Regions from separate parts of the Homo sapiens genome. Here region 1 is linked to region 2. The links come from fine-mapping of genetic effects on gene expression. Tissue or cell type: whole blood. Region 2 holds a variant in brackets; the other region holds the start of a gene. All regions are shown on one strand. Distances are between the middles of the regions.

What was found. PIP is the estimated chance that this variant, and not a neighbour inherited with it, causes the effect.
Region 1: TP53I11 starts here. The variant in region 2 is fine-mapped to the expression of TP53I11 in whole blood (TOPMed, PIP 0.93).

Annotation. Positions count from the first base shown.
Region 1 is chr11:44,947,561-44,953,456 of GRCh38, forward strand. It overlaps TP53I11 (tumor protein p53 inducible protein 11), which reads right to left and starts at 3,323. Exons shown (of 7, transcript NM_006034.5): 1 at 3,117-3,323. RefSeq lists silencers at 3,093-3,222, 3,253-3,512.
Region 2 is chr11:45,064,302-45,070,197 of GRCh38, forward strand. No RefSeq gene overlaps it. Among named protein-coding and RNA genes, the nearest start is that of PRDM11, 79 kb to the right of the region's middle. The variant A/G (reference allele first, on the strand shown) is at 2,616.

The sequences.
Region 1 (5,896 bases), 120 kb before region 2:
TTCTGGGTGAGTTGGGGGAGGCAGGTGGAAGGGTCCCTGCCCTTTTCGCAGGATAAGATGGGCCACAACCATAGTCCAGGACTGAGTGTCTCCCCAATCCTGGGGTGCTGGCTTAGTGGTTAAAGGACTAGCTCATGACTTAAAAGGCTTGTGCTCCATCCTGGCTCTACCACTGATGAGCTGTATGCCTTTGGGCCAGTGACTCTGCCTCCCTGGGCCTCAGTTTCCTCATCTGTTAAATGGGGTGTAATAATGACACCAACCTCTCACCAGTGAGAAGATGCACCAAAAAAATCCAGAACAGCGCCTGTTTTGTAGTTAATGTTCAATAATAATGCTGCTCATTATTTTTAGACTAGAAGACTCTACTTCCTTGCCTCAGTTGCCCCCTTGACCAAATCTGCCTCAGAGCAGGTCCCCTTCTAGGGATCATGTGCCAGGTCAGAGTTGGGTGCTCAGAAGGGACTGGTCATAGGAAGGAAGTGGGATGAGAGAGAGCAAGGGTCACTTTGGGGCAGGAGGACGATGCTGCGCTGGCCCTGGGAGGGGTCCAGCCAGTGTAGCAGGATAAACAGTGAGACACAGGGTGCCGGGGAGGTATCGTGGACCAGGAGTCAGAACATCAGGCACCCCGCCCTGCAGCTGCCTCTCCTGGCCTGTGTGTCCTGGGGTGACTGACATACTGTCTCTGAGCCTCACTTCCCTCACCTGTGAAAGGGGAGGAATTCATCCCTTCTCAGTCACTCACTCTTCCTCAGCCCCTCACTCCCTGCTAGCTGCAGGGTAGGCACATTCCAGCCTCAGGGCCTTTGCATGGGCTGTGCTCTAGCTGTCTACACAGCTCACTCCCTCATCTCCCTCAAGGCTGTAGCTCAAAAGTTACCTCCTCAGGGAGACCTCCCTGACACCCTATTTAAAATGACAACCCGGTCCCTGGCCTCAATACCCCCAACACAACTTTTCCCCTTCACCTCTCAGTACACTATATAATTTGCTTATTGTTTTTATTAGGGAATTGCCTCCCCCTGCCCCCTGCTTTTAAGCATCAGCTCCATGAGGACAAAAATTTTTATTTTGTCCACAGCTGTCTCCCCAGTGCCTGAAACTGTCCCTGGCACTTTGCTCCATAAGCCATTTTTGGTGTAATGCTCACAAACATTTTGTTCAATAAGCAAAAGTAAAGAACAGCCCCAAACTGTGTGACTATGGGGCATTCCTGTTAAATCCAGCCCCCTCCTCCCCCATACCCCAAGAGGGGCAGGCCCTTCTTCCCACAGAGGTGGGGCTATCAAAAGAAATTGGGAGGCTGGGTGTGAGCTGGAGAAGCCACAAGGGGCCTGGAGGCAGAGCTGTGCAGAAAATAGGTCGCAGTCCTAGAACTGGCAGGTCATGACAGCTGGACATGGGTGAAGGGGCTTTCGGCCTTAGCCCTCCACTCCAAATTTGGAAGCACGGAGGAAGTTGACGACATGTGACTGGGAAAGAAGCGGCCATGGCAGGGGCCTCCTGGGATGGTGGGGACAGAGGGGGCCTCAGGAACAAGACGACCCATTTTACAGATGGGACAACAGAAGCCTGGAGAATAGTCTTATTTCCTAACAACCCAACAAGAAAAATCTTTTCTCTCCTTTCTCGAAGTCTGGGGCTGAGGCTAAGGAGCGGACAGTGCCCCCTCCTGGCTCTGCAACAAAACGACCCCCGCGTCCCTGGGATCTGCGGGCCGCAGATCCTGGTCCCCTCTCCACAGGCCGTCAGGGGTGGAGGTCCAAGGGACCACATAGTTGGGGTGGGCAGCCCCGGTGACTTCTCCCCGCAGGCCCGCCCCGTCAAGAAGTTTGTTTGAAAGAAACCAATCAGGAAGTGCAGGGTAGTGGGGCGGTGAGGGGGCCTTGGCCAGCCGCTCTGGGCTTTGGAGGAGCCTGGGGGTTCTTGGCCTCCGCGCTGCTCTTGCCCCAGCCTCCATCTCTCCGGCGGAGAAACCCACTCCCCCCGGGCTCCAGGAAGAGGCGGAAGCCCGAGACTGGGTCAGGGCGAAGGAAGGTAGAGCGAGGGGACCCAAGGCGAGCGCCCCGCCCCGCCCCGCCCAGCGGGGCGCGCCGGGGTGGGCGCGGCGTTCTGGCCCTTCCTCCACACAGCCTCCCCCGGGTAGGTGCGAGTGTTCTGCCCACGGCAGGGGCCCTAACCCACCCAGCGCCCGGCCAGTGGCCCCACACTGTACCCTTCCTGCAGATCGCGCGACTTTGGGGAGAGTGGGGGGCGTCTCCACCTGTGCGTCCCCTACCCACCCCCTAACTGGGCTAAGGCGCGGCCTGGGTTTCTGCCCGCCCCTTTCCAGCCTGGGGACGGGGGACTCTCTCAGCCTCGCCCCTCCCCCTGCAATCTGTCCCTGATGTCCCCGCTCCAGACACTCACCCACTTTCTGAGACCCAGGCCTCAGCGCCGGTGTCCCCCGGCGGTGAGCTCCGAGCCGTTAGGCGGCCCCGGGTTCTCCGGCCCAGGGCCCCTGCCCCCAGGCCCCCACCCCAGAAGGTCGGGCCAGACTTGTGGGCAGCGGGAACTCCGCCACCACCTCCGTCCGCGGCCCTGCGGGGGCAAAGACTGGGGGAACTCGCAAGTTTGCGCCGCGCACTCCTCCTGCCGGGAACAATGGCGGGAGGGGGAGGGGACAGAGAACCGAGCGCGGGGGACCGAGTCAGACCCCGGGGAGACAGAAACTGCTTTCGCTCCGTTTCTCTCCTGCTCTGAAGCAGAAAGCTCGAGCCCGAGAGGCAGTGGCCGAGGACGAAATAAGCAGTCCAGGAGGAGGGCGACCGCGGAGCCGGGGGAGAGGGGAAACCGAGTCAGAGGGAGGGGCGGCGAGGGGAGAGCGCGCAGGGGAGACGGAAGGGGCTGCGGGACGGCGCCTTGGGGAGCTGGGGAGGCGACCCCCTGGGGTCCCAGCGGGCTCAGCGGGTGCCGAGATGTCCCGGGGCGCCCGGTTAGCGCGCGCGGGGTCCCGGCCGCCCCTCTGCGGTCCCGTCGGCCGCAGGAGCCCCGCTGGGTTGCGCTGCGCAGGCGGCGGGCGGCGGGAGGGGAAAGTCCGCGGCTCGGAAGCGGCGGCGGGGAGCAGAACTTACGGGCCTCGCGCGTGCCGGCGCTGGGCTACGTGGAGCTGATGCCAGGCGGAGGCTCCGGGCTCGGACGCCTCACATCGCGCCGCCCGTGCCGGGCCGGGCAGTGCAGGGCAGGGCAGGGCAGGGCAGGGCAGGACAGGGCAGGGCAGGGCAGGGCCGGGCCGGCTGGACTGCGCGCGGCGCCCTGCGCGGCCGGGGCTTACCGAGTCTGGCGGCCCGCGCTGGTCCCTCCTCTCGGTTCCGCGCACAAGCCAATGGCGCGCCGTCCCCTCCCACGCGCCGGGCTGCCTCGCCCCCAGGGTGGCCGCCGGGGCGGGCGGGATGGGGGTTGGCGGGGAAACCAGGCTCCCGGCTCCCCCGCGAGGCTCTCCCGGGGGCCGCCTGCAGGGGGCGCACGCGCGCCCGAGAGAAGGCGCCGGGGGAGGAAGCCGCGCGGGGAGACCCTGGCGTGGCCCGCGCCGCCCAGGATGACTTTCCTGGCAAGTTCTGCAGACGGTGCCCCTTTCTTGGGACGATCAACGTAGATGGGCAAACCACACCATCTTAAATAGCCTTGCGGTGTCTCCCGGGCCCAGGCCGGTGCCTGAAATGGAAGGGACTGCTTTGGCTGGCGGTGATACCCAAGTGTGTAATAACACAGTCACGACAATAGTCACCGTTTGCTGCGCACTCTCTGATGCCAGACACCATATGCTAAAGGAGTTACAAGTATTAACTCATTTGATTTTCACAGCAACCCATAAGGGCGCTGTGCTTAGTCCCATTTTACAGGCCATGGTCGTTAAAGTTTGAGTTCACTCAGCCTTCAGGCTTCCAGCCTAGGCCCACCCTTCTCTCTCCCTGCTTGGTGTGACTTGGCCAAATAACATGACCCCACTGTCACTACGGCCACCTTCTTCATACTCCACCCTAAAATCCAGCCTCAGAGATGCTGCTGTCAGTTGCGCTGTCAGGAGGCTAGGATCTTATCTGGGGCTCTAGGACGCTTGTTGGCGCTACAGTTGTCAAACCTTTTGTCTCTACACATCCTATGGGGGGCTGGGGTGAGGATGAGGGTTGGGGGTCATGGAGGCTCTCTGGTGGCGTGTCAACCTGAGAGAACCAGGCTCCTACAGACAAGGCCCCACCCCCAAATTCTGGGCTCCTTCAACCCCTTATGGTGGGAAAATAATGTGCTCTCTCCCACCCCAACCCCCACCACCCTGTGCTCTCCTTAGAGAAATGCCTGGATCTCTTTCATCTGATCTGATGGTCACAGTGGGCCAGGAACCGGGGTGGGGGGCTGCGGGAAAAGGAAGGCAAGGCTGATGACATGCTCCATTTCACAAGTAAATAAGACAGAAAGAGGTGAGTGGCTGCCTCAGGCATCTAGCTAGGTGGGCATTCTGACTCCAGGTCTCGGTTCTGTCTGCACCAGTTCCTTAACGGTTAATAGAGCAGGCTCTGGAACCAGATCACCTAGGTTCAAATCCTGACTCTGCCTTTTAGTGCCTGTGTGGCCTTGGACAAAGTAAGTCACCTAGAGCAACCAATAGTAAGAACCGGCTATGGTTGCTGTAGAGATTTAGAGTTAATAGGAGCTGCTCATGTTTACTGTGCATGGACTCTGTGCCATGCAGGCTCCCACTGTCCTCACCAGAGCTGGGATTGGGCAGGAGAGTCTGTGCCCTTGGCAAGGAAGTAAACAGAACAGTCCTTGGTTCATAGTAAGTGCTCAGTGAATATAAACTGTCCTGATTACTAAGGTAGATAAACTCTGATGCCCCAGTGCCACTGACACTGCCCCCAGCCAAACACCTAGACAGTGATAGCCAATAATGAATGAATCAATCAATCAATCAAAGTATGTGACTCTAGATGAGGATTATTTTTAAGGTGTGTTGGGTGGAGCCATCTGACTCAAGGCTCTATAGTAATTTCTGCAACAACTCAGTCTCACCTCACTGCCTTTACAGAGCTGGGCCAAGCTGGGTTGATGAATTCATTTGTCACTCCCTCTTCTGCCTTTCTGGCACTCAGGGCTCTGGATTGCTGAAGGGAGGGCCCCCAGCGTCATTCATGTGCAATGTCCTCCCAGACTTGGGGACACCTGCCAGTGCTCTGCTTGGTGTAACCCTAAAGACTAGCAGCAGGGTCTGTGCTTGTAATCCCAGCCAGCCTGATCATACATCAGTGGGAGGCCTTTGTCACAATCACTCCAAGTTTTCCAACATGGAAGAGGCTGCCTTAGTTGTCATGAATGAGTGCCCTGTCACTAGCAGCATGCAAGCAGAATCCAGGGAAGGGTTGATGAGGACAGCAGAGGAAGAATTCCCACCTTAAGTGGTATTTGGAGTGGATAACCTTTGCCCTCTGGGTGTCTGTATTCTCTCAGTCTCCTTATCAACGGGGAAGCTGGGGAGGCTGGGAGCTCAGGCTGGGCCAAGGCTGCCCCACCATCCTTTGTGAACGAGGCCATCCTGACAGTGCCTCACCCTTATGCCAGGCAAGGTGCTATGTGCTGGGGCCCCAGGGGTGAACAGGACAGTGTCCCTGTCCTTGGAGAGTTCACAGCCCCCTTGTAGATGACTGCACAGATAGTCAACAGCAGCAACAGTAACCGCTCAAGATAACAGGCAAAGTGCTTGGAGGGGGACCAGGGGAGAAGCAGCTGGCTCTATCCATAACCCCCTGCATCCGCTCTCCAGAAAGCACCCATTAGAGGCTCTTATTGTCTTCCTCCCTATATACTTTTCATTTATTTATTTACTTATTTATTTATTTTGAGATGGAGTCTCGTTCTG
Region 2 (5,896 bases):
CAGGACAGATGTCTGGAGGCTGGACTTGGGGAAGAAGCCCAGGAAATCCCTGGAAGCTGGCATGGAGCTGATGTTCAGAGTATTCAGAACACCTGGGATTCATTAGGCCCCTAGAGTCTGGCCTAGAAAAAGGTAGTGGGAGCTACAAATGGTGACATCCTTTTTGCTCCATGAATTCCTTACTCCACAAGAGAGATGCAGCTGGAGGGGACCAGAGAAGGACCAATTAAAGCTGTGCTGTCCAATATGGTAGCCAGTTGCCACAGGAGGCCATTGAGTACTTCAGACAAGGCTGTCCAATAGAAATGGGCTGTAAGTATAAGATACATACTGGATTTTGAAGACTTAGTATGTGAAAAATATGGCTCAGTAATAATTTTTACATTGATTACTTGTTGAGATAATATTTGAATATATTACATTTAAAATATTTTTAGCATTAATTTCACCTGTCTCTTTTTAATTTTTTTAAAGGGCCGCTAGAAAATCTAAAACTACATAAGTGACCCATGTTTTATTTCTATTTCACAGAGATGCTCTAAAAGTGTGAATCCAAGGGCAGGGGCTTTAGTTGTGCAGCCCTAAAGTTGATAAAGGTGGCCAGTCCCAGAACTAGAGAAGAGAAGACTGGGTTGAAAACAAGAGGTACAGAGATGACTGTGGTAGTGCTGGACTCTGTGTGGTCACCAACCTGCTGATTGCTGTCCTTCCAGATTAAACAGTTATCAAGATTTTGTTGTATTTGTGTCTTATCCAGGATTCATTGATTTGTTTGACAATAGTTAAGATTTTCCCAGATAACACTTGGATGGGTAGTATGGAGGACTGCAAAAATGGCCACGCAGTCTTTCCCTCCCATCAAGAAGTAGAGTCTATTTCTGCACCCTTTGATTCTGGGATGGCCATGCAACTTGCTTTAGCCAATGGGCATTAGTAAACAAGAGGGTGCTTGAAAAGTGCTTGTGTATTGGATCTTGCTATTTCTTGCTGCTGTTGGAGTACTGCTGCCTTGGGATGAAGCATTGATAACCCTAATTAATATCCTTCCTGTAACCACCCCCTTTGCATGTGATTTCCAAGTTTCTCCCACCAAGAGGTAGAGTTGATTCCCCCACTCCTTGAATCTGGGCTGGCTTTATAATTTTCTTGGATCAACAGAATGCAGTAGGAGTGAGTTGCACCCATTCTAAGCTTCTCTTTCTTTTGAACTCTGCCAGCTGTCATGTGAATAAGACTAAACCAGCTTGCTGAAGGATGAAAAACCATGAGGAAGAGACCCAAGTCAGCCCAATTCTCCCCGCTGAAGCCACCTCAGACCAGCCATACCCCAGCCGACCCACTGATTGCAGATTTGTGAATCAGCCCAGCAAAGATCAGCCAAGCTGAGCCCAGAACTGCCAAACTACCCAGCCAATCTGCAAACTTGTGAGCTAAATAAATGCTTTACATAATTAAGTTTGGCGTTGTTTGTTATGCAGCAAGAGCTAACCAACACAGTGATACAGATACAGATAAGATTTGAACTAGGGTCTGTCAGACCTGATTCCAGAGTTGAAGATCTTAACCACAGCACTCTACCATTTACATCCAAATTTTGCTTATACCCAAAGCTTTGAGTTGAAGAAAGTGAGGGGAAGAAAGCCAGACCTAATGATGTGGGAGTCACCACTTCCCCCACTAGCAATAAGAATGGCTGTCTCATGCTGTGCCACCTTCAAAAGGCACACCATCTGAACTTTTGGTTGAAGGATTAAACATTAATAATGAGACTTCTCTGTCCTTGGAGATGACAATTACTCTTTGAGATGCCAACTTCAGTTATCTTCCTCCTTAGGGATTATTAACCTCATTTCTCTGTGTCTATTGTTAGGACCCAGGAAGGAGCTGCTTTGCCTGTTCTGCCTCGATAATTACCCATCATGAGAACTGAGCATCTCTAATGGAAGTCTTCCTAATTTCCAGCATTTATCAAGTGCTTTAGATTTTATATTTGCAAACTTTCCCAAAAACTTCTATTCATCCAACTCATTAGATTGGCTTTTTGGATGAATTTAAAAATTACTTTGATGATATAATCACTATACTTCATTAGCAATTTTCTCCAGGATATTAGAATAGTTTATAGATAGTTATCCAGTTCACCTCACTGCATCCCTGTGAGACTGGTGGGTAGGAGTCTGGGGGAAAGAAAGAAAGCAGTTTTCTGTTTTTTGTTTTTTAATTCTGTCTTGCCAAAAGTGAAACTTACACAGAGAGGTTTTCTATTGCTGCATAATAAAATACCATGAATTTTGAGACTTAACACTACACACACATTTATTCTCTCACAGTTTCTGTAAGTCAAAAGCCTGCATGTGGCTTAGTGGGGTCTGCTTTAGGGGCTCACCAGACTGTACTCCAGGTGTTAGTTAGCCACGGCTGCAGTCTCATCAGAGGCTCAACTGGGGAGAGATCTGCTTCAAGCTCATTCAGTTTGGTAACAGAATTCATCTATTTGTAGCTCTAGGACTGTGATCACCATATCCTTGCTGGCTGCCAGCTGCAGGCCACTTTCAGGTCCCAGAAGCCAGAAACATTCTTTGCCAAGTGGCCCTTTCCATAAGCCCCCTCACCAC[A/G]TGGCAGCTTACTCACTTCTTCCAAGCCAACAAGAGTCATTTTCTCTTCTCTTTCTCTCTCTCTAGTATGTGATAGAGTCTTATATACCTTTGCCATATTCTGTTCCTTAGTAGCAAGCTGAAGTTCCCATGCATTCTCAAGGGGAGGAGAGATCACAAAGGTGTGGACACCAGGAGGCAGGATATCAGTGGGGGTTCCTTTTGTCATAATAAGCAAAGAGCCCAATGTCACACAGCAAGGTAGTAGTGTGGTGCTCTGGCAAGCATACCACAGCACCTTGGACATCTGTGCTCACTGCTCATGATGGTGGCCTTCTGTATCGGGGCCCACATGCATGAACTTACTCATCCCCACTTATGTAGTCAGGCCACCTGGCACACAGCACGCTCACCAACAAGCATTTCCCAGGATCCAAAGTCTCCTGGTCTCCCTTCAGAAGTCCAGATGAAGCTATAGTGGGGTTGAAGAGTGACCCTCCCCACCCACGTAGGCCTCATGCTGAGCCATGGTCACTGAGTCAATAGAAGCAAAACACTGAGAACAGAACTTGGCACCCAGCAAGTGCTCAGTCCCTGTTCACATTTCTACAAGCTCCTGGAAAGGAGCTTGTAAGTCAAAGTTGGACCAGCCTGACATCAAATGCACAGGAGGTATATACAGGCAGTCCTGGAGTCCCCTTGGATGATTTGACTTAGGATTTTTTAACTCTACAATGGTGCAAAAGCTATAACAAGTTCAAAAGAACAGTGATAAATGACATGAGATGTTCAATACTTTATTATAAAATAGGCTTTGTGTTAGATGATTTTACCCAACTGTAGGTCGATGCATGTGTTCTGAGCATGTTTAAGGCAGGCTAGGCTAAGCCATGATGCTCAATAGGTTAGTTGTATTAAGTGCATTTTCAACTTAACAATATTTTCAACTTACGATGGATTTATCAGGACACGACCCCATCACAGGTGAAGGAACATATGTATAGTAAAGGACTGTAACTGTGGGAGTGACTTTTCTTAAATATATTTTTATAAGGCAAAGTATCACTCCTTTATTTTTGTTTCTTTTGCATTTTCTTGTTGGGGCACTCAGGCAAGTACTCATATTATATTACTGAATTCTCACAGTGACTGTTTTAGAAAGTAAATTGTAATTTACAAAGGCTTCCCAGATAACCCATGAGGCTGAGTGCCTTGCAGAGGCCACATGGACTACAGGTGGCTGAGCATAACCCCAAATCTAATCTAGGCTCTGAAACACACAGCTGGCCTGCCTCTTCCTTTCTTCACCTTCCATCATTCAGATTTTGCCTCAGCCCATCACAGTGAATCTTGTTTGCTCAACCAGCTTCATCCATGGCCTGTTCCCTGACCTTCCTTGGTTAACCTCAAAGAATTAGGATTCAAGCTCCCTGTCTCGGTTTGTATCTCTCTCTCTCTCTCTTTCTCTCTCTCTCTCTCTCTCTTTCTCAGTTTGTATCTCTCTCTCTCTTTCTCTCTCTCTCTCTTTCTCACACACACACACACACACACACACACTCAAATACTTTCAAACACGGCCTCTTTGAAAGAAGACAGATCAGCTAGGCTCAGTGGCTCACTCCTGTAGTCCCAGCACTTTGGGAGGCCGAGGCGGGTGGAACACAAGGTCAGAAGTTTGAGACCAGCCTGGCCAATATGGTGAAACCCTGTCTCTACTAAAAATACAAAAATTAGCTGAGCACGGTGGTGTGTGCCTGTAGTTTCAGCTGCTTGGGAGGCTGAGGCAGGAGAATCGCTTGAACCTGGGAGGCAGAGGCTGCAGCGAGCTGAGATCACACCGCTGCACTCCAGCCTGGGCAACAGAGCGAGACTCCGTCTAAAAAAAAAAAAAAACAAACAAACAAAACAAAAAAAACCAGAAAGAAGACAGACCAAAAGAAGAGTCCTCTATCTTGTTTGTTCTATCAAACAGTCTGAACCAAGTAAATGCAGTCATGACCCATTTTCTTTTTCTCTCATCACTGCCCCAGATCTGCTCTGTCTACTCTCCTCTCAAGACCTTTAATGTAATCCAGGCAGGTCCGACACCTTCCCAGGCACCTTGCACAGCTATAGGGCCCAGCCCAGAGCCACGCAGGTTAGAACTTCAGTGTCTACTTAAAGAATAGCCCAGCTCAGGCTTGGCTGGGGACCTGCCCCTGGAAGAGAATGCGTGGAGGATAGGAAAGTCAGCTCTTCCTCATCCTCTGCAATGCCCTAGTGGAGCCACCATATTTAGCTCAGTGGAAGGACCACCCGTGGAAGGGGATGGAACAGCCATATCACACCCCCGACCCCTGGGCTGATGACGTTCCTCAGAAGAATTCCTCCTGCTTCCCAAGGCTTTGGTTCACATGAGCTTGATGGTGTCTGTATTTGTGTGTGTGATGTGGGTGGGGGCTGTTTCACCTGCTCTTAGTAAGTCTGTGGCCCTCTCTTCTCAGTGGGAGACCATCCAGCATCCCCTGTTTTCAGCTTGGTCCTTTGGGCAGCAATTCCAAGGCCACAGAGAAGCCTCAATCCACAGCCTGTACCCATCCCTGGATGCTCTGCTTTACCCAGCTCTCAGCCCCAAAGGAGCAAATCCAGCTTTTTTCTCACAATGTAGGCACTAAACTCAGCGCTGATTACATCTTTCCTTGGAGGAAGCTTGTCTTGCTGTGCAGGAGGCAATTTGCTGCAGGCAAGATAGCAGTGTCCTGCTGCTTGCCTGAAACTGGCCATTTCCAAAAGAAATCCATGGTGGTCCCGGGTGAGGGCGGAGGTGAGAAGAGTCAAGTGGAACAGTAGAGCCTGGGGCTGGCAGCTTTGATCTACGAGGCTGGTGGGTGTTGGAGGTCCAGTGCTGTGCCTGGAAAATCCAGCTCCTGGATGGCCCCCACCCTGCCATGGACCTTCTGGACAGTGTGGTTTTTAAAGCCACCATTTTTTTCCCTCTTAACAAGAGTTGGGCTTGCCAGGTACCCTGACATGTAGCATTTCTTTGAGTCTTGCTGACAGCTCTGCAAGGCAGAAGTCACCTCTCTCATTTTACAGAAAAGGAGACAGAAGCTCAGAGTAACTTTCCCAAAGGCAAACAGAGCAGGTGGTAATGATGAAGCACAGCTGCAGGTATTGTGTACTGCTCAGCAACCTGGAGTTGTGCAGTGCCGAGCTTGAACAACCATATGTGGTGGTCCCGGAAGCATTTTGCACACTTTGTCTTACTGTTCCTTACAGGAGCCCTATGTGGGCAGTGCTACCCATCCCGATAGGTCCAACAC